Homo sapiens: one gene and its partners. The protein of the gene in region 3 interacts with the protein of the main gene of each other region in a pairwise test. Each region holds a gene or a part of one and is shown on either strand. Other genes may lie near its edges.

Region 1 (7,000 bases), on a different chromosome or scaffold from region 3:
GCCACCAAAAGCAGGGAGCCCTAAGGGAGCAGTTACAGGTGAGTGGAGGGTGTGAAGTTCCGTCCTGTCCTCTGGAGAATGTTTCTTTCCTTCTTTTTCAGCACTTGCTTGGGTTTCCTCCCAAAGGTTCACATTCAGACCATAGGGATCCTCGTATCAGAGAAAGCTGAGTTACAGACAGCCCTGGCTCACACTCAGCATGCTGCCAGGCAGAAAGAAGGTGGGAATCTGGGCACCCCATCATCCTTCAACCTGGCACTTTGACAGGCCTTTAGGGGGAGTCCTTTGGGCCCCATCTCAACCTCTCTCATTCCAGGAGAGTCTGAAGATCTGGCCAGCCGCCTGCAGTATTCCCGGCGGCGTGTGGGAGAGTTGGAGCGGGCTCTCTCTGCTGTCTCCACGCAGCAGAAGAAGGCAGACAGGGTGAGTCCAACTGCCTGCCCCGTCCCCTGGCATACTGGCTTCCCAGATGGAGGAGTGAGCCTAAAGGTCCCTTCTGCAGGGTTGACTGTCCTGCCTAGAAGGCAGCATGGGCCATTTATCACTGCTTTTGTGTGTGGTTGCTAGAGGCATCCTGGGGCTGAGTCAGCTGCTGTGGGTGAGTTTGGGGGCACTGTGGGGAGTGAACACTGGACGCAGAGCTCGGAGGCCAAGTGCCCGCTGTGCCGTTACCTGGCTGTGGCCTTGGTCAAGTCCTAGGTGGGGGAATATGGTACTTGTACTGTGAAGGTACAGAAGAGTATCTTTAGTATGTTACCATTTGTGTAGAGAGAGGGAACGTGTGTGTGTATGTGTACCTATGTACTATGACAATATACATAAAACGTGTCTGCATGGATTCATAACAAACTCAGGAGAGAGGAACAGCACGGCTGGAAGATATTTCCCTTCTGCCCTTTCGGAGTTTTGGACTATCTGAATATATCATCCTTTCAAAAACTGAACAAAAGATAATTTCCCCCTTCCTATTTGTGCCCCCACCCTCGGGGAACAAATGAGCTTAGAGAGTCAGATATACCTGGGTGTTCAAATCCGAGCTCTGTCTAAGTGATCTTAGGCAAGCACTTAACCTCTAATATTCCGTGTTGTCCATCTACAAAATAGAGGTAATAATAGTAACTGTCTCATGTGGTGGTTATGAGGATTAAATGGGATTGTTAGCATGGTGCCTGGTGAAGCATTCAATAAAGGTTCAAACAGTGGTAGTAATAATGATAATAACAATAGCAATATTATCTGATCTCTCTGGGCCTCTGTTAGCCAGCTGTAAATTCGATCTTGGCCAGGTGTGGTGGCTCATGCCTGTAATCCCAGCACTTTGGGAGGCCGAGGCAGGTGGGTCAACTGAGGTCAGGAGTTCGAGACCAGCCTGACCAACATAGCAAAACCCTGTGTCTACTAAAAATGCAAAAAATTAGCCAGGTGTGGTGGCGTGCCCCTGTAATTGCAGCTACTTGGGAGGCTGAGGCAGGAGAATTGCTTGAACCCGGGGGCGGAAGTTGCGGTGAGCTGAGATCGTGCCACTGCCCTCCAGCCTGGGTGACAGAGGGAGACTCTGTCTGAAAATAAATAAATAAATAAATAAATAAATAAATAATAACAAAAATTAGCCAGGCATGATGGCGCATGCCTGTAATCCTAGGTACTCAGGAGCCTGAGGCAGGAGAATCACATGAACCCGGGAGGCAGAGGTTGCAGTGAGCCAAGATGGCGCCACTGCACTCCAGCCTGGGTGACAGATGGAGACTCCATCTCAAATAAATACATATATACATACATACGTACATACATAAATTCGCTCTCTCTCCCTGTTCCTTCCACCCTTACCAAGTCCTTTTTTTTTGAGACGGAGTCTCACTCTGTTGCCCAGGCTGGAGTGCAGTGGCACCATCTCGGCTCACTGCAAGCTCTGTCTCCCGGGTTCATGCCATTCTCCTGCCTCAGCCTCCCGAGTAGCTGGGACTACAGGCACCTGCCACCACGCCTGGCTAATTTTTTGTATTTTTTTTTTTTTTAGTAGAGATGGGGTTTCACCGTGTTAGCCAGGATGGTCTCGATCCCCTGATCTCGTAATCCGTCCCCCTCGGCCTCCCAAAGTGCCAGGATTACAGGCGTGAGCCACCGCACCCGGCCACCCTTACCAAGTTTTTTTAAAAACAAATGAGACCAGCCGGGTGCCGTAATCCCAACACTTTGGGAAGTTGAGGCGGGCGGATCACTTGAGGTCAGGAGTCAAGACCAGCCTGGCCAACATGTTGAAACCCCCTCTCTATTAAAAATAAAAAAATTAGGCCAGGCATGGTGGCTCACGCCTGTAATCCCAGCACTTTGGGAGGCTGAGACGGGCGGATCACAAGGTCAGGAGATCGAGACCATCCTTGCTAACACAGTGAAACCTCGTCTCTACTAAAAATACAAAAAAATTAGCCGGGTGTGGTGGCGGGGGCCTGTAGTCCCAGCTACTTAGGAGGCTGAAGCAGGAGAATGGCATGAACCCGGGAGGCGGAGCTTGCAGTGAGCCGAAATTGCGCCACTGCACTCCAGCCTGGGCAACAGAGACTCCATCTCAGAAAAAACAAAACAAAACAAATTAGCCGGACATGGTGGTGCACGCCTATAGTCCCAGCTACTCAGGAGGCTGAGGCAGGAGAGTCACTTGGACCAGGGAGGCAGAGGTTGTGAGCTGAGATCTCACCACTGCACTTCAGCCTGGGTGACAGAGGGAGACTCTGTCTCAAAAACAACAACAGCAACAACAAAATGAGACCATGGGCTTGGAAATGCCTTGAAAACATGTCAAGTGTGATTGAGAGTGAGGAAGTGTTACTGTGGAGTACTTACTGTAGCTGTTGTTACTGGTTGGCCAGCTGCTCCTCTGCCTGCTATATCCTGACTTAACCTTTCTGTATTTACAGTACAACAAGGAGTTAACCAAAGAGAGAGACGCCCTCAGGCTGGAGTTATACAAGAACACGTAGGATGGGGGATGGTGGGATGGGAGGTCTGGGGGCCCTCAGCATGGGTGGTGTGCTGGGAGGTGGGGGGTACAGGTAAGCATGATGAGGTAGTCATAGAGGTGTGCATGTGTGCCCAGCAAAGCTCTAGTGCCAGCTGTGCCACTGACTCATGGTGTAGCCTTGGGTAACTCGTATCTTTTCTCTGGCCTGTACATGTGACTTTTGATTCCTGGGGTTCCTTCCAGTGCCACAGTTCTGTGGTTGTGGGGCAAGGGTAGAGGGTGGATCACCAAAGCAGTCCTTTCTGTTCTTCGTTCATTCCTTTCTCTACTGCCTCTGGCCATAGCCAAAGCAATGAGGACCTGAAGCAAGAGAAATCAGAATTGGAAGAGAAGCTTCGGGTCCTAGTGACTGAGAAGGCTGGCATGCAGCTTAACTTGGAAGAATTGCAAAAGAAGTTAGAGATGACGGAACTCCTGCTTCAACAGGCAAGAGGCTGCAGCCCCATGGGTGGTGGGAGCGCCATCCAGCTGGGGCCATGGTCTAGGGATCATGCAGGGCATGGGGAGACTCCAGCCAAGAGCTGGAAAATTTGGGTCCTTGTTCCGGTCCTGGCATAAAATCCTCTAGAGAGTGCTAAAAATCTACAAATTGGGGACCTGGGGAATCAGAATCTTAGGGTTAGGGCTTAAGACAATTTTTGTTTTGTTTTGTTTTGTTTTGTTTTAAAGCATCATGGGTGAAAACCATTATTTTAGAGATTACATTTATATGGCTAGCTCATGAGTCTGTTTATTTCCTTCTGAGGTTCAAGCCAACACTTTCACTAATAATAGAGAGTAGAGATCTTTTTTTTTTTTTTTTTAGACGGGGTCTCGCTCTATCACCCAGGCTGGAGTGATACTTACTGCAACCTCTACTTCCCAGGCTCAAGCCATCCTCCTGCCTCAGCTTCTCAAGTAGTTGGGACTACAGGCGCACACTACCATGCCTGGCTAATTTTTGTATTTGTAGATACGGGGCTTTGCCATGTTGCCGAGGTTGGTCTTGAACTCCTGAGCTCAAGCAATCCACCCACCTCAGCCTCCCAAAGTGTTGAGATTACAGGCATCAGCCACCATGCCTGGCCTGAGATCTTTTTAAAATTATTTTTTATTTCTAAAGCAAAGAAACTTGACAGCAGAGTTGTATTGACTGAGTTGCACATTGAGCCTAGCCCTAGCCCTTTTAAGGGGCACTATTTGGAACGGCCTGGGCTCCCCAGATCTAAACTTCTCGCTCTTCACCATCCAGTTTTCAAGCCGGTGTGAAGCCCCTGATGCTAACCAGCAGTTACAGCAGGCCATGGAGGAGCGGGCACAGCTGGAAGCACACCTGGGGCAGGTGAGGCTTTGCAGGGGAGGGATGTAGAAGGAAGATGACCCCAGGTGGCCAGGAGTAGGTGACAACCAGTGACAGTCCTTCCTCATTTCTGTGGCCATTCTTGCAGGTAATGGAGTCGGTTAGACAACTACAAATGGAGAGAGATAAATATGCGGAGAATCTCAAAGGAGAGAGCGCCATGTGGCGGCAGAGGATGCAGCAGATGTCAGAGCAGGTGAGACCTGACCCTTCAGCTCCCCCTCAACCTTAGATAGGTCACTTGATCTTTCTGGGCATCTGCGAAATGGGAGGAGCACAGCCAGAGGTGGTCATGGGTCTGGGCTTTGTGGCGGTGGGGGCAGAGGGAGATGGTAGCCTGTCCAGCCACCAGCCCCTCTCCAGGGCCCTTTCTTGCTGTGCTTTGGGCAGGTGCACACATTGAGAGAGGAGAAGGAATGTAGCATGAGTCGGGTACAGGAGCTGGAGACGAGCTTGGCTGAACTGAGGAACCAGATGGGTAAGCTGGGGCTGGGGTGACCTGGGAGCAGGAATGGTGTCAGAGGGTTGTGGGGGTGGTTTAGAATGCCCCAGGGAGTTGGGTGGATGGAATGGCTTTGAGGCAGAGGGAAAGAGGTCTGTGCCAGGAGATGGCAAGTCTCGTCATCTCCATGAGCCTCAGTGCCCCATCAGCAAAGACGAAGGAGTGCCCGTTGTCAGCCACCCACAGTTGTCGCTATCGGAAAGTGGTTTGGAAGATTGGCTAACATCCGGGTGCGAGGAATCATCAGCAGGGAGGCCAAGTTTGGGGAGCTTGAGAGGAGGTATGGACCAAGAGGAGGGTTTTTTTGAGAATCCAGAGGCTTTTATTGTCTGCGTCCTTTCTCAGCTGAACCCCCGCCCCCAGAGCCCCCAGCAGGGCCCTCCGAGGTGGAGCAGCAGCTACAAGCGGAGGCTGAGCACCTGCGGAAGGAGCTGGAGGGTCTGGCAGGACAGCTTCAAGCCCAGGTGCAAGACAATGAGGGCTTGAGTCGCCTGAACCGGGAGCAGGAGGAGAGGCTGCTGGAGCTGGAGCGGGCGGCCGAGCTCTGGGGGGAGCAGGCGGAGGCGCGCAGGCAAATCCTGGAGACCATGCAGAACGACCGCACTACCATCAGCCGCGCACTCTCCCAGAACCGGGAGCTCAAGGAGCAGCTGGCTGAGCTGCAGAGCGGATTTGTAAAGCTGGTGCGCTGCCCCACCTGGAGAGCCCGCCCTCCTCCCTAGCCCTCCAGACCTTTGTTTTCCCACCTGTAAAGTGGGGCAGTGTAGCCCTCACTTGAAATGGTACTTCTGGAGGCATCTGTGAGCCAGAGCCCTGCTCCGATGGCTGTGGGGGAGAGGGGATGATTTTTCTAACCTGCCTCCACCCTTCCCGGTGCCATGGGAGGCAGACACCAAGGCAGCAAGTTCTGGGGTCTCCAGCTGCAGTGGGTGGCCGCTGATTGCTTCTCTCTGTCCAGACTAATGAGAACATGGAGATCACCAGCGCACTGCAGTCGGAGCAGCACGTCAAGAGGGAGCTGGGAAAGAAGCTGGGCGAGCTGCAGGAGAAGCTGAGCGAGCTGAAGGAAACGGTAACCCCGCCCCATCCAAGAAGGGCTGGGAGGCGGGCACCAGCCTCTGGGGAGGGGTGGTGTGAGGCCAGAGGCAGCTCCAGCCTGGGGCACAGGTGACCCCAGCACCCTCCAGGGCAGTCCTGTGACTGTTTCTTGCTCCCTGCCCTCTGACTTTTAGAGGTGGATAGCTTTGGGCTCCTCTCAGGTCTGGACATCATCGTCCCAGCTAGAGGCATGGATTTCTCCCAATCACAGGGGAAGAGACAGCGGCATAAGAGGCTCCTTAGATTCAAACTGGATTCTGGCCTTTGCTCCACTGGTCATCATTCAACTACTTTGCATCTCTAAGCCCCAGTTTCTTTAACTTAAAAAGGAAGTTAGCATCTTCCTTGCAGAGGTGCTGAGGATTCAATGAGATAATACGTGGAAAGCATTAGGCATGTAGCACACTTAGCAGATGGTGGTTGGCTCCCTCTGCGTTTCCACCAGTCTGTGGCCTACGGTTTAAATGGTGGGAAGAAGGATGTGAAATTTGAGGCTGGGGAAGGAGGCACGAGGCTCTAGACAAGGGAGGCAGTCACTTAGGCCTGGAGCAAGGGGCCAGAGGTCTGGGCAGGTGACAGAGCCCTCGCTACCCTATTTATGGGCCCTGAATCTGGAAGCAGGCCACCACCTGCCCTCACGCCCAGGGTCTTCCTACAGGTGGAGCTGAAGAGCCAAGAGGCTCAAAGTCTGCAGCAGCAGCGAGACCAGTACCTGGGACACCTGCAGCAGTATGTGGCCGCCTATCAGCAGCTGACCTCTGAGAAGGAGGTGCTGCATAATCAGCTACTGCTGCAGACCCAGCTCGTGGACCAGCTGCAGCAGCAGGAAGCTCAGGGCAAAGCGGTGGCCGAGATGGCCCGCCAAGAGTTGCAGGAAACCCAGGTGAGGGAGTTGGTGAGGGCAGGGCCCCGAGGGGGACAACCTGGCAACCTCCATGCCTTCTCACTCTCTTTTCTGGCCCCTTAGGAGCGCCTGGAAGCTGCCACCCAGCAGAATCAGCAGCTACGGGCCCAGTTGAGCCTCATGGCTCACCCTGGGGAA
Region 2 (7,030 bases), on a different chromosome or scaffold from region 3:
ACCAACTCTATACAAACTCATCCTGAAAGGAGGGCCCAATTCCCAGTTCATCTTATGAGACTATTATCCTGATACCAGTAGTAGACAAAGACAATATAAGAAACTGCAGACCAAGATTCCTCATGAAAATAGATGCAAAACATAAACGCAGAAAAGCAAAGATAGTTGCTACCTTGGTTGGATGGTATTGACTGGAAAGGAGCACAAAGGAACCTTCTGTATTGTTGGAAGTGTTTGTTATCACAATCTAGGTAGTTATTACACGGGTTTAAACACATGTAAAAACTCATCAAGCTGTTTAAGGTTAGAGCACTTCTTTCAGTTTGTTGTATATATGTCATACCTCAAAACATTTTTCAATGTTCAATCTACCAAGAAGGATGAATGAAAAGTGTCTCACATAGTTTAGTGTATGACACCTGACATGAAATTCTTTCTATGCTGATGCCCAAGAAATTCTGTCGACTAATGAAACAGTTTGGAAACTCTCCTCTATTCTGCTTAAAATAAAGTCACTGTTGGTTTATACAGCACTGTATCTTCTGGTTAACTCGGCCATTAGAGTGAGCACCAGCCCAGTTGAAAGTTCACAAGAAGCAAGTAAACACTGGATTTGATTTAGAATCAATAATAGCAGCAGGGTTTTCTCAGGCTGTTTAGAAGCATCGTGGCAATTGTTTGAGAAAATATAGGTAGTTCTAGTGAATGCGCTACAGAATGTTGGAAGTAGCGGTTAGCTTAGAGATTTTAAAATGTTAGAATCAAATAAAAAACAAAAATAAAATTTAGAATCTGTCTACAGCAGTGAAGATGACCTTCAAATTGTAAGTAAAATTAATATTTCTTAGAAGGAAAACCTCTCCAGTTAGTGAAATTACAACCAAAGAGAATAATATAATATAATCACAAAGAATGTTGCATTTTTGCCTCTTTCTTAGGGACCTTCTCAAATGATTCATGTGAGAAATTGCTTCTGCTGTACGAGTTTGAAGTTAGAGCCAAATTGAATGATCCATTACTGGAAAGCTTCCTGGAATCAGTGTGGGAGTTGCCTCATTTAGAAACTAAAACTTTTGAAACAATTGCAAGTAAGAGCTATATTTATGCTTTTGTAAGGCTGGTGCCCATTTAGATCGTATGACTTTTTTTCTTCTCTTTACTCTTCTTTCTTACCTCCAGGTAGGAAATAATTTTTTCTCATAGCACTTTGTTTCTCCTTCTCTAATGCCATTCTTAGACTATTTTGTATTATGATCATTTGTGCATTTATCTTCTTCACTCTATGAGATTATAATCTCTTTAGGGTCATAAACAATAATTACTTAATTTGTACTTACAAACCCTAGCGAAGTTCATTGCTCCTAATAGGTGCTCAAATTTTTTCTGTGTGGAATTTAATTATGTAACTACACAACAGGGGGAGCTCAAACTTTAGAAAGTTTTTCTGGGCTAGCTAGAAATAACTGAGTGCTTCAACAATCAAAAGTGATGCAATCTTAGCTGTTTGTTGAAATGTACAGAGAAATACTGGTAATATTTTTTAACACAATTGCCACTCTCAAATTTCAGGCCAAACTTTACGTGGGTTTGGGGGCATAGAGCCTTTTTGGGAGTACACTGCAGGAAACAGCCTAATTATCTTCCCTTTTTATCTCTCACCCTCTTCAGGAGCATGTGTGTGGTTAATAAAAATATTAGGTAGCTCCAAGTGCACAAGAGTCACATTTGCCTTTCCTTGGTCTTGCCAAGACAGAATTCCTAGAGCCATGGAGCAGATGATATATACTTTATGGACATGTGACAGCAACCACTGCTCCTTGTATAATGGAACTCCAATTCTAAAAATCTGTTAAATGCATCTGGAAGTCTTAGGGTTAGTTACCTCTGATACTCCCTTGTCAAGTGTTTCCTATTTTTAGTATCAGATAAAAATAGGACATTTTAGTACAAACCTGTTTCAATTAGTGCCCTTTTACTGATCTGCTTTCTGTTTCCTTCTTAGTGTGCCCTTCCTTGACTGTCATTCATAAGATTATTGCTTCACCTGTATGACTGTGTGCAAGGTCATACAAACAGTAGGTTTTCTGTTGATGTTTGCTGAAAAAAGGATGTTACCTGGTAATCCCACCATGCTACTCTGCCCAGAAAGTAGAAGCTATTTCCAAAAGCGACTGTAGATTTATCATTTATAAAATTCATTGTTGTTTATTTTTGTTCATCTGTTTCAGCCCAGTTTCATTAGAGAAAGCAAGTGGTAGCCTGGGATGAAAACTGTGATGGGTGACATTATCATGTTCACAACCTTTTTCCTTTTCTTACTCTAGTAATAGCAATGGAAAAGCCTGCACACTATCCTTTGATTGCTCTCAAGGCCTTGAAAAAGGCTTTATTGCTCTACAAAAAGGAAGAACCAATTGATATATCACAATACAGGTTAGTAAATACAATCCAGCCTTTTTGCTAGCCAAAAGAACTATAGTCAATGCCTCAAAAGTAACCAATCGTTCTTAATTGACTCAACTTTAAAGATGATATGGGGATGATCTGGGGGCATTCTTGTGAACAGCTCCATACTGAGAGTTGTATTACAGACCAATAATTATTTAGCAAAGTCAAGGAGCTTGGTTTTCCCAAAGGAGAAAAAAAAGGGGAAAAGTTGCTTCTTTGTGTGAATCTGTGTATATAATAAAACTGCTAAGTACCTTTCTTTCTTTGTTTCATCACTAAATAATATTCCAAATGTACAGAAAAGCACAGGGGTTAATATAACAAACACCAACGTATCCACCACCCAGATTTATTTGTTTTATTTTTAGAGATGGGGTCTCGTGATGTTGCCCAGGCTGGATTCAAACTCCTGGGCTCAAATGATTCTCCACCTCAGCTTCATGAGTAGCTGGGATTACAGGCACGCAGCACCCAGATTTAACAAATGTTAACATCTTGCTATGTTTGCCTCATTATTTTTCTAAGCACTTTAAGCACCGATAAGTGCTGTATAAAATATTATCTATTGGAGACTTTTTTGTTTTCTGTGTCCAGACATGGGGAAAAATAGATGTTGTGTGACTTTTTTTGTCTGGAAAACATCATTACAGTCTTCCTGTGTTAAGGCACGAAAGACAGTTCTTGTGGAATCATTCCACTTTAAACCCCAGTTCCCTTGCCCATTTGAGGAAGTACCGAGATGCTTTAAAATGCCTGTAAATTGAACCAGCTCATAAAATATAATAGACAGCCACAACTCCTTCGTGCAGGAAACTAAAAAAAGAATGAAAGACAACCATAGGCATGAAAAAAGAAAGGATTGGTCAACCTGTTTTACAGCTTCAAAAATCTGTCTTCTGAGGTTGGAGGCCAGATAAAACCGAGGGAAGAACAGAAGTGTTTTGAAGCTGTTAGTCTGGGATGAGATCCAGGTTTTACTTATCTTAGCCATGAAGCCAATGATTTCTTTCCTTATGGGATGAGTTTTCTCTTTTTGATTTTCAGCAAATGTATGCACAACTTGGTTAACCTCTCAGTGCCAGATGGGGCGTCGAATGTAGAGCTCTGTCCCCTGGAAGAAGTTTGGGGCTATTTTGAAGATGCTCTGAGCCACATTAGCCGCACTGTAAGTCAAATAGTGATATTAAACTTTCAGTTAATTTTAAAGAACTGAACTGTCTTGTGTACTATAAATTATATACAATAATGCTTTCTGATATGAGTTTTAGGATAAATTCATATTACAATTTTGTAGTTACACACTACAGAATTTTCCTGGGTTTCTGAAATATAAATAGTTGAAAGTAGACATTTTCTAACACAAGTGTATTATGGATTAGGTCCAAGTAGCAGTACCACCAGGCATTTTGAATTATTTTATATTTTCAAATCATGGTGGGATGATTACTTTCTCTGTGATGATATGAACCTTTTGAAAAAAGTTATTGCTATTCCCATCCTTTCTCAGAAGCATCCTTTCTCAGAAGAGTAGAAGGAACATTGAAGACCTGTATTCTAGTCCCTCCTCTGCTGATTTCTTTTTCTTTTCTGTGCAGGTTTATTCAGTTGTTTTAAAATTAGGTTTCTTGAGGTATAATTCACATATCATAAAATTCACCCATGGCTTGTGCACAATTCAGTAAATTTATAGAGTTGTGCAACTATCACTACAATCCAGTGTTTTTTAGTTTTAAAAATGTTTTATTTTTAATTTTTGTGGGTACATAGCGGTGTACATGTACCCATACTTATGGGGTACATGAGATTTTTTGGTACAGGCATATAATGCATAATAATCATATCAGGATAAATGGGGTATCCATCACCTCAAGCATTTATCCTTTGTGTTACAAGCAATTCAATTATACTTTTAGTTTTTTAAAATGTACAATTAAATTATTGTTGATTATAATCACCCTGTTGTGCTATTAAGTACAGATCTTATTCATTCTATTTTTTGTACCTATTAACCATTTCCACATTTCCCCCACCCCTCCTCTGGTAACCATCACTCTACTCTTTCTCTCCCCAGCAGTTCAATTATTTTAATTTTTAGCTTTCACAAATAAGTGAGAACATGTGAAGTTTGTTTTTTGTGTGTGTGCTGGGCTTATTTCACTCAACATACTGACCTCCAGTTCCATCCATGTTGTTGCAAGTGACTGGATCTTATTTTTTTTATGGCTGAATAGTACTCCATTGTGTATAGGTACCACATTTTCTTTATCCATTCATCTGTTGATGGACACTTAGGTTGCTTGCAAATCTTAGCTATTGTAAACAGTGCTGCAACAAACATAGGAGTGCAGATACCTCTTTGATATACTGATTTCCTTTCTTTTGGGTATATATCCAGTAGTGGGATTGCTGGATCATACGGTAACTCAATTTTTCGTATTTTGAGGAACCTCCGAACTGTTCTCCATAGTGGTTGTACTAATTTACTTTCCCACCAACAGTGTGCAAGGGTTCCCTTTTCTCCACATCCTCACCAGCACTTCCTATTATTGCCTGTCATTTGGATATAAGCCATTTTAACTGGGGTGAGATGATATCTCACTGTAGTTTTGATTTGCAGTTCTCTGATGATCAGTGATAGTAAGTACCTTTTCATATGCCTGTTTGCCATTTGTTTGTCTTCTTTTGAGAAATGTCTATTCAGATATTTTCCTTATTTTAAAACTCGATTATTAGATTTTTTTTCCTATAGAGTTGTTTGAGCTCTGTATATATTCTGGTTATTAATCCCTTATCAGAGGGGTAGTATGTAAATATTTTCTCTCATTCTGCAGGTTGTCTCTTCACTTTGTTGATTGTTTCCTTTGCTGTGCAGAAGCTTTTTAGCTTGATGTGATCCCATTTGTCCATTTTTGATTTGGTTGCCCATACTTGTAGGATATTGCTCAAGGAATCTTTGCCTACTCCAATATCCTGGAGAGCTTTCCCAATATTTTCTTGTAGTAGTTTCATAGTTTGAGGTGTTCGATTTAAGTCTTTAATCCATTTTGATTTGATCTTTGTATAAGGCAAGACATAGGGATCTCAACTTTCCTCCTTCTGCATATGGATATCCAGTTTTCCCAGCACCATTTATTGAAGAGACTCTTCTTTCCCCAAAGTATGTTCTTGGCACCTTTGTCAAAAATGAGTTCACTGTAGATGTATGGATTTATTTCTGGGTTTGCTATTCTGTTCCACTATGTTGAGCTGCCTGGGGCTGGAGGAGGGGTGATACAAGCACCCTTGTGGCCACTGCCACTGGGACTGTGCTGGTCAGACCTGAAGCCAGCACAGCACTGGGTCTCACCCAAGGCCCACTGTAACCACTACCTGGCTACCACCTATGTTTGCTCAATGCCTTAGGGCTCTACAGTCAGCAGGTGATGAAGCCAGCCAGGCTGTCCTTCCCTTCAGGGCAGCAACTTCCCCCTGGCCCCAGAGATGACATGCAGGAGCCAGGGCCTGGAGTCAGAAACCCTAGAAATCTACCTAGTGCTCTATTCTACTGCAGCTTAGCTGGTATCCAAACCACAAGACAAAGTCCTTCCCACTCTTTCCTCTTTCCACACGCAGAAGAGTCTCTCCCCGTGGCCACCACCATCAGGTGGTGTGGGGAGTTCTGCTGGGCTACTGCCAGTGTTCACTTAAGGCCCAAGGGCTCTGCAATCAGCTTGTGGTGAATGCTGCCAGGCCTGGGACTCATACTTCAGAGAAGTGGGCTCCTCTCTGGCCCAGGACAGGTACAGAAATGCCATCCAAGAGCCAAGGCCTGGAACCGGGGACCCTAGGAGCCCACTTGGTGCTCTAACCCACTGTGGCTGAGTTGATATCTAAGCTGCAATACAAAATCCTCTTTACTCTTCCCTCTGCTTTTCTCAAGCAGAAGGAGTCTCTCCTCATAGCCACCACAGCTGGGAATGTACTGGGTCACAACTGAAGCCAGCATGTCTCAGAGTCTCACCTAAGGCCCACAGTATGTACTACCTGGCTACTGCTGCTGATCACTGAGGGCCAAAGTGCTATTTAGTCAGCAGGTGATGAATCCTGCCGAGACTGGGTCCTTCCCTTCAAGGCAGTGGGTACCTTTTAGCCCGAGGTGTGTCTCAAAATGTTATCTGGGAACTAGGTCCTGGAATGGGACCTTCATGACTATGCCAAGTGCCCTGTCCTACTGTGGCTGAGCTGGTATCCAAGATGCAAGACAAAGTCCCCCTTAAGCTTCCCTCTCCTCTCCTCTAGTGGAAGGAAGGGGTCTGTTTTGGAGCTGCAAACTGCACTGCCTGGGGTTGAGGGAGGGGTCGTGCAATCACTCCCTTGGCTGCCCTGGCTGGTGTCTCACTAGGTCGCATGTCCCCCAGATGCACTGGCTCCAAGCCCAGCACAGCACAAAGATTTGCCCAGGAGTTGCAGTCCTTGTGGCCTAGACTGCCTCTCAAATTTATTTAGAACCCCAGAGCACTTTAGCTCTCAGTGGCAAGGCTTGTTGGAACTCAAGTTCCAACTACTGGGATGGACAATTGCTCTCTAGCTAGGGCTGGTCTAA
Region 3 (8,021 bases):
AACACTGCCCTCCAGTCCAGTACATCCGAGTTTGCTCCACTTACCTTCCCTACCATCAACCACAGCTCTACCCACGCCACACTATCCCGGCCAAACTCCTTAGCGTCATCTTTAAGACTCCTGTCCAGCCCTGTCCAGTCTCCCTATTCGGCCCTAGCCCCACAACTCCCCTTTAAGAATACTGGAAAACTGGAACTCTATCAAGCAAGCATGTCCCCATTCTCATTTGAAGGGTCCCCGCCACCTGGCGTGTCCTGCTCTAGCACACACACACACACCCAGACCGCAGGCTCCTCCTCTGCTCCATAGGCTCTTGGCACTACCCCGGGATGAGCGACTGTCTCCACTGCCACTGGTCTTGCCAGCCATTCACTTGCCCTTGCCTTGTGGTACATGTCACAGCTTGTCCAGAACTGTCATGATGTATGTGCTTGTCATGATTCCGCTAAATAGCAAGTGCCCCAGATGTAGAAATAGTCCATCTTTTCCTCCCCGACAGTGCCCAGCACAGTATGTTGCACAGGGTAAATGTTTATTGAGGAAATAAACCACTTGAAGCCCTAGAAAGAAGTCATTGGCCCAACACCCCACCATCCCTCTAGGCAGAGGCAGGAGAGAGGCCAGAATCCTGCCTTCTCCTTCCTTCTTTAGGCAGACGTGGGTGGGGCGGGGGCTTAAGCAGTTAGTCCCAGTGTTTATTTTCCCCCCACAACATTCAAGTCCTGTGCTAATCCTTCTGTTAATAAAAAACATGGACAAGATAGAGCTCTCAAGGCACTTGAAATTTAATTGGAGGGATAAACCCATAAAAAGGCAATTATTTGTTCTTTGGTGGGACTTTTGGAAAACCCTCTCTTACACATGACATAACAAAGCAACCTTTTTTTTTTCGTACGTCCCCAAAGAGGGAAAGGGGAGATAAGAATTATTGGGAATAAGGAAACTAATATGTACCGAGCTCAGGAGATGTGCTAGGCCACACTCAGGGCATACTTGCTTGCAATCCTTCTTTAGGGCAGTGAGATGTTCCCATGTAGCACATGTGGATGAGTTCACACTCAGAAATGCCAGGCCATTCACGGTCTCACAGCTAGTGAGCACTGCACTCTAGATTCTGCCCGGCTTCCACACTTTGCCTGCAAAGTGTGCCCAGGCATCGTGAGTTCTGGGGCAGGAGAGAGCACAGGCCAGGGTGCTTGCGGGGGCTTTGTGGAAGGTCTGGGGTTTGCATGATTTCAGATGATTTCAGTGGAGAAAATATGCACAGAGCGGAAAATGACGAGAGGAAAAACGGGCACGAGAATCAAGGCGGCAAAATGGGAGGTGTGCTCCAGGGAAGGGGAATAGTCCGTCTACTTGGCTGGAGCTGAAATTTGTGTAGAGAAGTGGCAGGAAGTGATTGGATCAAATGATGAAGAGTTTGGTCCTTATGCTGTGGCAGGGAGGAGATGGTGAGGGGCTTTGCGGGGGCCAGATGCAGTGGTCTGGTGGCAGCATGCTGAAGGAGTGGAGGCTCTAGGGTCTGGGCAGCAGAGTCCAATGCCCGGAGGCAGGGGCACATGGCTCCCAATCTCTGGTGAGAATGGTGGCTTTGGGGCCCTCATCCTTCCTTTTCTTCAGGTCTCTGTCACCCTTTCCTTCCTCCCTGAGTGTCCAGGTGCCCTGGCTCCACCTCTCCCGAAGTTAATGTTTAGATAGCTCCCCCGCCCAGCAGGTTGGTGTGTAGGGTGGGGCCGGGGGGCACTGGAGTGAGACAGACCAGACGTGGACAGAGAAGCCTATCGACAGGGCCTGGGGGAGGGAGGAGGCAGCAGGGCCGGAGTCCACCCAGGACATCTGGCACCAGTGACCTTGTGGGGAAAGGAGCCAAGAACGGGGCGTCGGGGGGCCTGGGACCCCCCTGCCTGAGAGATACAGGAATCCTGGCCCCGTGTTGTGGACACAAGCGCCCATCCTCAAGGTCCTGAGAACTCCTGAACTTCCAAAGGTATGAGAGCCCTGGCAGCCGCCTCCTGCCTGCTCAGTATGGAGCAGAGCTGAGGAAGCCCACCCGCCTGGGGCCTGAGCCAACAGGCACCTGTTGTTCAGTGTTGCCAGCTTTCAAGGGGGAGAATCTCCCCTCTCAGACAAGCCATGGGGGAGTTCAGTTCAGCTGGCCTTGAGAGGTCAGAGGCCTTCCCAGGGGGAGGAGGCCGGAGGCAGAGTGAGTCTTCCCATGGGACAAGGACAGTGACGAGGTAGGGTCAGAGGATGGCATGGGTGAGAAGGGTCCCCTTGCCTCCCCTCTGAACGCCCACCACCAATACACACACACACACACACACAGACACACACACACAGCCCAGATCCCTGGCAGCAAAATGACCTTGGCAGCTACCACTCCTCAGGTCGACAGAGGGAGCCCTCACTCTGCAGTCCCCTTGGGTCCAGGCCTGGCTGGGCTGAGCACTCTTCCTGCCCAAGGTGGCCCGCCCGCCCCACCCATGGAGGGACATTCCGATAGAATGTGAGACTCAGGCATGGTGGGGGACAGTGGGAATGGGGCCTTGAGGAATTGGAAGAGAGCTGTCCCTTGCTCTGAGTTTTCTCAGGTGGAATGAGAGAGGGTTTGGGACCAGGTGAAGGTGCTCACAGAGACGGCAGAGGTGTGGGGCCCGCAGCCGCGTGCCCAGTGCAGCCAGCGCCCAGGGGCCTCTGAACCCTGCCGGAGCAACCCCTCTGGCCCTTCAGCACAAGGACTGTCCCTGCCTTGCTGCCTGTCATTGTCCCGAGCTCCACACTGGGCTTCCTGGAGTGGGGACTCTCCCCAGTGCTGCATACTCTTCAAGACTGGCCTGCTCTCCAGCCCTGAATTAGGGTTCTCCTGGGGTCACCCCTAAAGCCAATTCTAGAGCCTTATGAAAGGAAGTGGGGGGATGGGGTACTTGGTGGGGTTCACTGGGCACCCTAGCTCCTGAAGCTGTCCCCTAACCCCCAGCCCCAGCACTGAGGACCCACCCTCAGGCCCCCTCCCTCCATCTCTGAGGAAGAGGCAGCGGGAGGCACAGCTTCCTCCTCCCCCCCTCCCTGCTGCCGCGGCTGAGCCGGGCCTGAGCTGCCGGCAGGTTGTCTTGGCAACAGGAGGTGGAGAGGAGATGCGCCGAGGGATGGAGGTGTATGTCACCGAGGAGGCTGCTGCGCTCCTGCCCCACGCCCTGGGCCCTTGAAGGTACCGAGCACCCTCCCCTCCTTCTCCCCTCCGCCCTTTCCCCTTGACTCCCCCTACTCTGCCCTACATGCACTGGCTTCAATAGGAGGAGGCACCCCTCCTCCCAGGCCCAGCGATTCTACCCATTCCTCATCACCCACCTCGTTCCAGGCCCCTGGCCACAGCTGTCCTTCCTGGCATCAGCTCATTCCAACTCTACCTCTGGGGACCCTTGCACCAGAAGACAGCTCTCCTGGGGTGGGGCCTGGTGGGGGAGGGGCAATACAGGGGAGGAACCCAGGTCGGGGTGCGGCGGGGATCAGGAATTCTAAAGGGCTGAGGTGTCAAAGCCCCAAGTACCTGGTCCGCTGGAGGGACCGAGAGAGATCATCTAGGGCTGGAGTGGGGCTGGGGCTTCCCCTCTGTCTCTCAGACTCTGATTAGAGGGAAGTAAGGGTGGGGTTGAAGGTACAGAAAGCCGAGAGGCTGGGCTGAGGCCGGGCTGGTTGTGGAGCGATGGCTGGAGTGGCTCCTCCTCCAAGGCTGTGCCCCTTTCTGCCACATTGAAGGTATGCCCCCTCCCACATCACTCTCCTGGCCTTTTTCTCTGCAGTTCCATGGATCTGATGCTTCATCCCCCACCCCCAGGTTTTCTCTACCTTCACAGCCACCCCCGCCTGGCTGCAGCAGCTCAGCCTGTGTTCTGTCTCCCTTCTCAGCCACCTGCCTCCTTCCTTCCTCCCTTCTCTCTGGAGCCCATCCCTCAGGTTACTGTCCTCTCTGTCCCCACCAGCCAGATACTTTCTGTCCCCTCCTGGCCTCTTCCCTCAAGCCCCTCCCCCTGTGCTTCTCCATTCAGACACCCCAGAGCCCCCTCCCCAGATTCTAGATTTCCCCAACAACAGCTGATACCATCAGCTGACCGGCTGGGGGCAGGGTTGCCAGGGCAACGGTGAGGGCTGCCTAGGTAGGCAAGTCTGCGGTGTGGAGGTGGAGAGGACATTGGGGCCAGGGCGAGGGTCGAGGGCAAGGCTTGTTGTCCTTCCCCATCCTGCCCAGGGGGCCCGAAAGGCCAATGAGAGGCTCCTGGGGTGGTTGAGGCTTTGCTAGAGACAGGGAAGGCACATGCCTGTAAATTCTGTGCTGGGACCCAGGGGTTACCAGGCAGGAAGCTCCTTTTTCATGAAGCCACCCTAGGGAGAGATGGGGTCCTTCTCTCTCTCTGCTGCATCCCATTGGAGTTCCCAGGGGATTCAGGTTACTGAGGGGCCAGCTCAAGTCTCAGTACTGAGGACCTGGTTGCATCCCTCCATTCTACCCTCCCAGGAGAGAGCTCATCCTTGGGTAACCAATTCTGGCCTGTGCCTGCACCCCCACCTCAAGAGGCTGGGCCCCAGAGGCCTCAGTTGCTGCTGTCAGATGGTGGGGTGGTCATGAATAGGGTAGGAGGTGCAGGTGCCTGGAGAAAGCAGGCATTGTCCGCCTGGGTCATCAGTAGCCCCCTCCCTCGACCCACCGCCCACAGCAACTTGAACTCTGGCTGTTTAGGAGGAGGCTGAGGGGCTCTGGGTGCGTGTGGGTGTGTGTGTGCGTGTGAGTGCTGCAGACTGCGGTGTGGGAAAGGGAGAGGACAGTGCTGGCTGATTCTGCTTTGTCATGACGCTGGGTTAATGCTCCTCTTGTTTGAAATGGATTGAGCTGCAGCGCTGGTGGAAGAGCGCGCACATCCACACACACACCCTTGCCAGCCACACGCTATCAGCTGGAAGTGGGGAGGGCGCGGGGAGGGCGTGGGGGAGCCAGCAGCCCGCCCGCCCTCCCGCCCCCAGACGAGGACTCCCCAGCACCGGGGGATCCAGGCGGCCGTGCGTTGCAGAGAAGCAGGGTGGGGGCAAGGAGGGTGGGGGCCCAGAGGGGAGATCAGACCGCTCAGCCGAGACCAGCTCCCCTCCTTCGCCAGCTCCCACCCCGCCCACCCACCCTAAGCCGGCATTTTTCCTGTTATTTGTGCTCCGGGGAAGCGCCGCGGGGTTCCTGGAAGAGACACCTATTACCTAGGCTCCTGGGGGAAGTGACAGCCCGTGGATCTGGCCTACGCCTCTCGGGCCTCTGTGGCCTCAGAGCGTCTGGGCCACACTGTCTGGGAAGAGGTAGGTGGCAGGGTCTCCGCCTCTCCTCCCCTCTGTGGGCACTCTGGGCCACAGCGCTTGCTGGCGAGCCAGGCTTTGGGTGGCAGCAGGGTATCTGGGGGGAGCCCACTGTGGGCCCTGTTCAGTGGGAGGATGGGCCGGCCCCTGGGACCAGCTGGGCCTGATCTAATGGAACCTTCTGATCTGGGGAAGAGGGCCTGGGGTGTTCTCATCCCAAGGATGAGAACTGCTCCCAGCCCAATCCCCTCTTTGCCAGCATCTCTGCCTGGCCTACCTAGCTGAGCAGGCCAGCAATGGAAGGGATGGACTGTGGGGGCACGGGGTGGGCAGGGGAGCATTCCCTCTCTGCTGAATACTGGCCCGCTGGCCTCCCCAAAACCACTCCACATGCTCTGGGGGTTGGAGCAGTACATTTAGGGGCCTGAGGCTGTTTGTTTGGAGCCTGCTTTTTAGGGGGAGTGGGAGGAGAGCCTGCCCCCAGCCAGTGGCTGGCCAGGCTGGGGTGGGGCTGAGTGAAGAGTGAGGCTGTGGCAGGGCGCAGCTGCAAGCCCAAGCCCAGTACTCCCCCTGTGCCCGCCGCTGGGGTGCTTGAAGGGGCCAGGGCTGAGCAGACATGCAGCCCCCACAGGGTTCTGGGGCTCCCCCTCCCTAGCTCTGTCCCTCAGGGCCTAGCAGGTCCAGCCCCCTTTCTTGGGCAGACACACCCAGTGTGTCCCTTCCAGGGACCAGTTGCCTGGTTGTGAGAGTCAGGGGAGCAGGGACAGGTCCAAGACAAGGAAGGCAGTTGGGCTGTGGGAATGGGGAGCCCAGGGAAGGCCTCCAGAGCTGGGTAAGTGGAGGGCTCTGTGTATGTTGCTGTACACGTGCACTACTCTGGGATGGATGCCAGGGAGAGGACCGGTGGGTGGGTGTGAGCGGGTGTTGGCAGCACCATGTGTCACAGTGAGGGGGCCTCGATGGGAGAGTGGGGGCATGAGCTGGCACACAGGGCTTCGGAGTCTCCCCGCGTGCATGCGTCCTGCAACGGTTTCAGCGCGGGCGCTTCTGCCTGTGCCCACCTGTCCATCTTGTGTCCGTGCTGCCGGCCTCTCTGTGGTCAGGCGTTAGACTCCTGGGTGAGGTTGTCCACCCGTGGGTGGATGTCTGCAGAATCCCTCTCCTAGAGCTCCTGGGTGTTGTGGGACTGGAACAGGGAGGCCCTGGGATCCAGAAAGCTGAATTGAGGCTGCATCTCCCCCAGCTCTGCCAGTCCCACTTGTACAACAGGACCAGCTATAAATGGAGGGGAAGCAGTCCGCCTGAGGGGGCTGCAGGATGCAGAAAGCAGAAAGCGGGGTCTCTTCAGAGGGTGGGTGGAGAGGGCACATAGAAACCAAACCAGAGAGAGACCTAGGAGAAGATGGCTGCACAGATGCGTCTCTGGGTGGGCTAGAGAGGCAGGAGGGGGCACCTGGGCCCGGTTTTGTTGTTATTGAGAGAACAAGGGAGGGCAGGCCTTGAGCAGGGGGACTCTGGGCTCCCCACCCACCCAGGCCTGGTCCTTTATCCGAGTATGAGAGGGTGCCCTGTAGTGCTGGGTTAGGGGAACCCTCATCCCAGCAGACACAACGGTAAAAAACATTGGAGTAGGGGAGAGGGAGAAAGTGGGAGAAGAGGAGGGAGTCCCCAGGCTCTGCCAGCCTTAGGACAGACTTGGAGTTCAGGCTTCGCCTAAGTAAGGGACACCTCTGATGAGCCACTGGCCCAGAGCAGGCCTCAGCCTCCTGGTGTCCTTTTCCAGTGGCGGGGGGGTGCGGGGAGCAAGGTGCCCTACCCCACCCACATCACACGCATGCACAGCACCCATGGGAGCGCCTGGCCCCTGCCCTGCAGCGCCGCACTGCTCCACCCTCCCTGCCCCTCCCCACCCAGGATGCTGTTTTGGGAACTGGTGACCTAGCTGGATTCTGCCTTTATTTCTGGCATTGAATTGTTGCCACAGTAACTGCGGGGGTGGGGCTGGGTAGGGGAGAGGGTGAAAGGGAAAGAGGGAGGGAGGGAGAAAAGATGAAGAAAGCCAAGAAAAGGGACCAGAAGAGAAAGCAGAAAGACAGGAGGAAGAAAGGGAGAGAGGGCCAGGCAGTCGCACTGTGAACAGAACAGGAGAAGGCGAAGCGGGGCAAAGTTCCCTGCCCACCGACGCCAGCCTGCTTGGATGACTTGCCTCGTTTCATAATTCACTTACTGTCTGCACCAGCCGGCCTCCAGCCTGGCTGGACCCTGCTGCCTGTGTGGCCCGGAGCCAGAGGCCCCCACACTCCCAGCTGCTCTTCTACAGATGCCATCAACGAGCAGGACTCTGGGTGGCTCCACTGTCTAAGGTTAGCACGTGGGACCCCCAAGTCCCACATTTTGATTGAACTGGGATCTTTGGTACTCATTGAAAAGAGCACTTGGCTTTGGCCTCAGGCAGGCCGGGGTAGGGATTCTGGCTTGGCTTCTATTTGGGGGGCCTTCGGCAAGTTCACCTCTCAGCTTCATTTTTGCTCATCTCTAAATGAGGAGAATGTCGTTTTGTGTGAGGTTTAGAGACGATGTATGAAAGTCCCAAGTATACAGGGGCTGCCACCAAGCAGGTAGTGGTTGGCTGGAAACAGGAGCACAGCTAGACCAGGGGCCCTCCACCCCGAAGTTGCCATTCTGCC
Region 4 (6,629 bases), on a different chromosome or scaffold from region 3:
GAACTCTTGACCTCAGGTGATCCCCCTGCCTCGGCCTCCCAAAGTGCTGGGACTACCGCATCCGGCCTTTGATCTTAACAGTATACATAGAATGTATTCTGTTGTTAACAGAGTTGGTTTCAATATTGTAAAGACGTACCATACAATTAATACAGAGTAATCAAATTGTGGAAATATAAAAAAGAAAAACAAGTATTAAACTGTAGTTCTGAGAAGTAGTTATGGCCTTAAGTGTTAGAATAATTTTCTCAGTAAGATGCTGCCTTTTTAATTTTTAAGTTCTCATATATAAAATTATTTAATTTTTTTAGGTACATCCATAAACCTACCAATCCTGATGAACCTCCAGTTGCTGAACAGCCCAAACCACTGTACCCATATCGAACAATTGGTTGTGTTTTCAACCATCAGATGTTCCTGGGAAATTGTCAACCCTCTGATGCAGTAGAAACCTGTGTATTTGATTTGAACGATGAATCCAAATGGAAACCCATGAGTGAGGAAGCAATTAAATCTGTGTGTGCTCCTGGAGCTACAACATCCCTTCCTCCCTTTCCACCTCTGTGTGCATCCACAATTGACGCGTCAGTAACAAGTAATGAAATTGAAATGCAGCTGAGGCTCCTGGTGTCAGAACACAGGAAGGTAATTCACACTGAAATAGTTGTAGTTTCATACTTCTTTTCATTTATGTATTTAACTGTTTTTTGGTGTGTGTGATAGTGCCAGTCACTATTCTAGCCCTGAACAAAACAACTACAGTCCCTACTATTATGAAGCTTATAATTTTGAAAGTCATGAGAGTTCAAGTTCTGAGACTCAAAAATCTTCAAATTAATTAATACTTATAGAATGAATTACTTCCTCCTAGAAATGAAGAATGGTGAACTTGTTCACATCCCTTAGAGTCAAGATTTTTGCTGAATACCACTATTTGGATTTTGTCTTTGTGAAATGCTTATTCACATATTTGCCCCTTAAAAAATCCTGGGTTAGGCTGGGCTTGATGGCTCATGCCTATAACCCCAGCACTTTGGGAGGCTGAGGTGGGTGGATCGCTTGAGCCCAGGAGTTCAAGACCAGCCTGGGGAATATGGTGAAACATCATCTCTATTATTTTTTAAAGAAAAAATATGTATACTGGGTTATACTTTTTTCATATTCATTTTTCTCCCCAGGTTGGTTTCTGTTTGTTTTCATGTTGTACTCAACTGGGTAGACGTCTGGCTTTAATTTGCATTTCCCTGATTACTTTTGAGATCAAACCTCTTTTTTTTTTTTTTTTTTTTTTTTTTGAGATGGAATCTCTCGCTCTGTCACCCAGGCTGGAGCGCAGTGGCGTGATCTTGGCACAGTGGCGTGATCTTGGTTCACTGCAACCTCTACCTCCCAGGTTTAAGCAATTCTCCTGCCTCAGCCTCCTGAATAACTGGGATTATAGACATGTGCTACCACGCTGCCAGTTTTTGTATTTTTTGTAGAGATAGGGTTTCACCATGTTGGCCAGGCTGATCTCGAAGTGATCTACCTGCCTCAGCCTCCCAAAGTGCTGGGATTACAGTTGTGAGCCACTGCGCCCAGCCAGATCAAGCCTCTTGTCAAATAGCATGTAGATTTCCTTTGTAAAGTGCTTTTAAGAAGACATAAAAAGTATTAGTCATAAAGGAAAAGATTAATGTATCTTAAAGACTTAAGCTCATCAAGAGAAGACATTAAGAGATTGAAGCTGTGGGGTGGGAAAAGTTGTTTGTAACACATATCACCAACAAAGGACTAGAATCCAAAATGCCTACAAAATATTTCTGATTCACCTTTTAGGGTTCCCTGTTCCACTCCTCACCTTGGGTGAGCCCTGTTTTCTGTGTTCTTTGGGGCTATCAAAGGCAAACTGATTTATCAAACATGTTCTCTGGGTTCCCAGTTACTCTTAGCTTTGGCCTCTAAATATTTCTTATTCACTTGTCAACTTATCAAAGCATTTAAACATACATTTTGGAAAACCTGGCATTTGTAATATGTTTTCAGCAAAAGTTGGTCAGGGGACCTCTGGTCCATTATATTGCTGGAAATGAATGCCCCTTATTACTTTTTCTTTCCTTCCATCACTTGTATTGGCTTTAGCTTTCTTTTCTTAGGTTCTGCTTACAAATAAAAGCAATATCTTATAAAAATTACTTTTGGCCAGGCACAGTGTCTCACGCCTGTAATCCCAGCAGTTTGGGAGGCTGAGATGGGTGGATTGCTTGAGCTCAGGAGTTCAAGACCAGCCTGGGCAACGTGGTGAGACCCTATCTCTACAAAAAGTACAAAAATTAGCCGGGTGTGGTGGTGCATGCCTGTAGTCCCAGATACTCGGAGGCTGAGGTGAAAGGAGCCGGGGAGGCAGAGGTTGCAGTGAGCCGAGATTGTGCCACTGCACTCCAGCCTGGGTGACAGAGTAAGACCCTGTCTCAAAAAAAAAAAAAAAAAAAAAAGGAATTACTGTTTACAGAAAAAGAAAACAAAGCTGTGATAGATGCCAGTGTTGATCACTATTTAAGTTAAGGTGCCTGTAAATCAGCAAAAGTTCACATTTTGCCGCAGGAAAAGCATTGTTAATCGTGGATCTTTGAGACCATTTGTGATGAGTTAAAACCTTGAATATAAAATGAGGAAATACCAAAGATCCATTATGATAATCAAAATATCTAGAATTTTGAGAATTTTTTGTATTTGTAATATTATTATTTTTAACTTCATGTGTCCAGATATCAATAGGTCTTTTGGTGTTATAAATGGAATCATGGGCTGGGCACGGTGGCTTATGCCTGTAATCCCAGCACTTTGGGAGGCCGAGGTGGGTGGATCACTTGAGGTCAGGAGTTTGAGACCAGCCTGGCCAACATGGTGAAAGCCCGTCTCTACTAAAAATACAAAAATTAGCCGGGCATGGTGGCAGGTGTCTGTAGTCCCAGCTACTCAGGAGTCTGAGGCAGGAGAATCGCTTGAACCTGGGAGGCAGAGGTTGCAGTGAGCCGAGATCGCGCCACTGCATTCCAGCCTGGGCAACAGAGTAAGACTCTGTCTCAAAAAATTTAAAAAAATAAAAAATAAATGGAATCATGTTGTTTTTAACATTCCATAGAAATATGTTTTAAGCTCCCTAAGGGCCTATAAAATGTCTTCATCTTTTTATCTCTTACAGTATATAAGTTTTATAGAGTACATGTTCAGTAAATATTTGTTTAATCACATAGAATTAATTTGTTGACTTTTCTCACCTCTGTAGTTGAGTTTATGGTAGGAAGAGTCAGTCTTTAGTAAACAGATTCATTCTTACTAAACTCTTTTTTATTTATTTTATTTATTTATTTTTTTTGAGACAGAGTCTCGCTCTGTTGCCCAGGCTGGAGTGCAGTGGCACGATCTCGGCTCACTGCAAGCTCTGCCTCCCGGATTCATACCATTCTCCTGCCTCAGCCTCCCAAGTAGCTGGGACTACATGCACCCGCCACCACGCCCAACTCATTTTTTGTATTTTTAGTAGATACAGGGTTTCACCTTGTTAGCCAGGATGGTCTCAATCTCCTGACCTCATGATCCGCCCACCTCAGCCTCCCAAACTGCTGGGATTACAGGCGTGAGCCACCGCACCCGGCCTAAACTCTTTAAAGTTAAGTAAAATATCTCAAAATATAAGAATTATACCTGTCCTCCATATTAGGACTATTTCATATAGTATTTTGTAGTAGATATTAGAGAAGTACAGGATTTGGAGACTTTGTGAACATTGTTTTGAATGTTTTTTGGTTGTTTCTCTAAAAAGTAAAATCTGATCACCTATAGTTCCTTTTATCTGATTTTTATTTCTATGTATCCCTATAATTATTATTATTAAAATATTATGATAGCTTTTAAAAATCTTTTCTTGGTATACATTAAAATAATCAACATTTTTATTTAGTTGGTTTTAAAAATATTAATGTATTTCACTTTTTCTTTTTCTCTTGATTGCTCATAGGATCTTGGCCTCACTACTGTTTGGGAAGACCAGCTCTCCTACCTTTTATCACCAGCTTTGGCTTCTTATGAATTTGAGCGTACAACAAGTATATCAGCAGGCAATGAAGAATTTCAAGATGCCATAAGAAGGGCTGTACCTGATGGTCACACATTTAAAGGGTTCCCAATACATTTTGTGTATAGAAATGCAAGACGTGCATTTGCCACATGTCTTCGGTAAGGTGTAATTTACGGAATCATTTTTTCAGTTTAGGAGTCTTACAGATCAGTCCGGCAGGGGTTTTTTTAATTTCCTTTTTTTTTTTTTTTTAACTCAAGGTCTTGCTCTGCTGCCCATGCTGGAGTACAGTGGCACAGTTATGGCTCACTGTAGCCTTGACCTCCTGGGCCCAAGTGACCCTTCCACCTCACCCTCCCAGGCAACTGGGACCACAGGCATGTGCCACCATACCTGGCTATTTTTTTTATCTTTATTTTGTAGAGATGGGGGTCTTCCTATGTTGCCCAGGCTGGTCTTGAACTCCTGGGCTCAAGCAGTCTTCCCACCTCAGCCTCCCAAATTGCTGGGATTACAGGTGTGAGCCGTTGCACCCAGCCTAATCTGGTAGTTATTTAGAAATGACATCCAAGTCATATGGGAGCTTTTACAATGACTGACCCTCCTTGCCACAGATTTTGATTCATTTGGTCTGAAATGTAGCCCTAGATAGTCTGGGATTATTTGCCCAGTGATTTTGGTGCAGTCTCAGGTATCTCTGATTTTGTTTGGACTATAAGGAAATAGTCTATAATTTGAATAGCTTGACCAAAATTACAGTGTCTTTGATAGCAGAGACAGAATTTGAAAAAATTATTTTATTTATTTATTTTTGAGATGGAGTCTCAGTCTGTCGCCCAGGCTGTAGTGCAGTGGCACATTCTTGGCTCACTGCAACCTCTGCCTCCTGGATTCAAGCGATTCTCCTGCCTCAGCCTCCCAAGTAGCTGGGATTACAGACGCCCGCCACCACACGCGGCTAATTTTTGTAATTTTTAGTAGAGGCGGGGTTTCACTATGTTGGCCAAGCTGGTCTTGAACTCCTGACCTCAGGTGATCCACCTGTCTCGGCCTCCCAAAGTGCTGGGATTACAGGCATGAGCCACCACGCCTAGCCTGAAAAAATTATTTTAAATACTGATTTACTTGCAAATAAGGAATTAAAGTGTATGGTCACTTCTTAATTGAATAATTTTTTTTTTCTTAAATAGATCTCCTTTCTGTGAAGAAATAATCTGTTGCCGTGGAGACCAAGTGCGACTGGCAGTTCGTGTCCGAGTATTTACTTACCCTGAATCTGCATGTGCTGTTTGGATCATGTTTGCTTGTAAATATCGCTCGGTATTATAGGGCCAATATTTATATAAGATTTATACCTGTGTTTAATTGGAATTTTACACATTGTACATTACTTAGCTATTTAGAGGTTTGTTATTTTAAAATCACAATCTGGCTTGAATGGCATACTTCAATTTTGTATATACTTGACTGGTAATGTTTAAAAAAAATCATGCATTCCTTTAAAAATTAAGGCTGAAAAACTTGTATAAATCTCCCTGGAATTTAGTATAAATTAAGTGTATATTCTATTTTAATAAATGCTACTTTGTTTACAGTTATCAGTAGTTTAAATATTAATATAAAATGCATTCAGTTTTCTTTACACAAACAGGTAATCAAAGAGATGTTTGTCTAAGGGTTTGAGCCCTAGACAAATCAGTATGATCATTACTTTTCACAGGTTAATGGAATTATTTTATACAGATTAGGAGAAATTAACCTCATGACAGATTTATTTATTGCATTGGTGAAAATAAATGTTAATGAATTACCACTTTTGTGGTTTATTCGTGGTCCTTGGGATATTTGAGACTGTCCAGAAATTTATGGTTGGACCTTGAAGCAAGAGTAGGAAAAAACTAATACCAGAAAAGCATAAATATTAATAACCTCATATGAAAGTACATGAATCATTTAGAAATATTTATCACTGTGATTTGTTGTAAAAATGAATTGGGTATTTTAGAAAAACTTTATTATACCTCTTTGTTATGATACTGATAAATTGTGATCTTGCAGTCGATCACTGATTTTCTGTGGTCAGAGGATTCATTATTAGCCTCTTCATGGATTCTATCTTCTGAAACCCTTTTTTCTTTCATTGTGATAAAAAAATCAGCATATATGTGACTAATCTAAATAAGAGATTGATTGTGTGAGACCACTGAAAACAAGCATATGTGAGTGATTCCATACTGATTTTTGTTTTAAAATTGAGCACGTTTTAAAAATTTTGTAAGGCTCGGCGTAGTGGTTTATGCCTGTAATCCCAGCACTTTGGGAGGCCGAGGTGGGTGGATCACTTGAGGTCAGGAGTTCGTGACCAGCCTGGGCAACATGGTGAAACCCTGTCTCTACTAAAAATACGAAAATTAGGCCGGGTGCGGTGGCTCACACCTGTAATCCCAGCTACTCAGGAGGCTGAGGCAGGAGAATCGCTTGAACCTGGGAGGCAGAGGTTGCAGTGAGGTGAGATCGCGCCACTGCACTCCAGCATGGGAGGCAGAGCGAGACTGCATCTCAGAAAAAA

The links.
Region 1: the proteins of DMTN (region 3) and GOLGA2 interact in binary tests that used the Homo sapiens proteins (3 or more experiments, as listed by UniProt).
Region 2: the proteins of DMTN (region 3) and TEX11 interact in binary tests that used the Homo sapiens proteins (3 or more experiments, as listed by UniProt).
Region 4: the proteins of DMTN (region 3) and CEP76 interact in binary tests that used the Homo sapiens proteins (3 or more experiments, as listed by UniProt).

The regions. Positions count from the first base shown.
Region 1 is NC_000009.12:128,259,008-128,266,007, reverse strand, and holds part of GOLGA2 (golgin subfamily A member 2), read left to right. Parts: coding exon 1-38; intron 39-126; coding exon 127-220; intron 221-316; coding exon 317-423; intron 424-2,915; coding exon 2,916-2,974; intron 2,975-3,303; coding exon 3,304-3,445; intron 3,446-4,250; coding exon 4,251-4,340; intron 4,341-4,446; coding exon 4,447-4,554; intron 4,555-4,748; coding exon 4,749-4,836; intron 4,837-5,205; coding exon 5,206-5,543; intron 5,544-5,818; coding exon 5,819-5,932; intron 5,933-6,616; coding exon 6,617-6,841; intron 6,842-6,925; coding exon 6,926-7,000. UniProt on the Homo sapiens protein: Peripheral membrane component of the cis-Golgi stack that acts as a membrane skeleton that maintains the structure of the Golgi apparatus, and as a vesicle thether that facilitates vesicle fusion to the Golgi membrane.
Region 2 is NC_000023.11:70,548,709-70,555,738, reverse strand, and holds part of TEX11 (testis-expressed protein 11), read left to right. Parts: intron 1-938; coding exon 939-1,088; intron 1,089-2,324; coding exon 2,325-2,433; intron 2,434-3,492; coding exon 3,493-3,613; intron 3,614-7,030. UniProt on the Homo sapiens protein: Regulator of crossing-over during meiosis. Involved in initiation and/or maintenance of chromosome synapsis and formation of crossovers.
Region 3 is NC_000008.11:22,051,800-22,059,820, forward strand, and holds the start of DMTN (dematin), read left to right. Parts: upstream 1-5,014; 5' UTR 5,015-5,337; intron 5,338-6,064; exon of another isoform or gene 6,065-6,166; intron 6,167-7,280; exon of another isoform or gene 7,281-7,697; intron 7,698-8,021. UniProt on the Homo sapiens protein: Membrane-cytoskeleton-associated protein with F-actin-binding activity that induces F-actin bundles formation and stabilization. Its F-actin-bundling activity is reversibly regulated upon its phosphorylation by the cAMP-dependent protein kinase A (PKA).
Region 4 is NC_000018.10:12,672,125-12,678,753, reverse strand, and holds the end of CEP76 (centrosomal protein of 76 kDa), read left to right. Parts: intron 1-311; coding exon 312-645; intron 646-4,000; coding exon 4,001-4,218; intron 4,219-5,250; coding exon 5,251-5,389; 3' UTR 5,390-6,129; downstream 6,130-6,629. UniProt on the Homo sapiens protein: Centrosomal protein involved in regulation of centriole duplication. Required to limit centriole duplication to once per cell cycle by preventing centriole reduplication.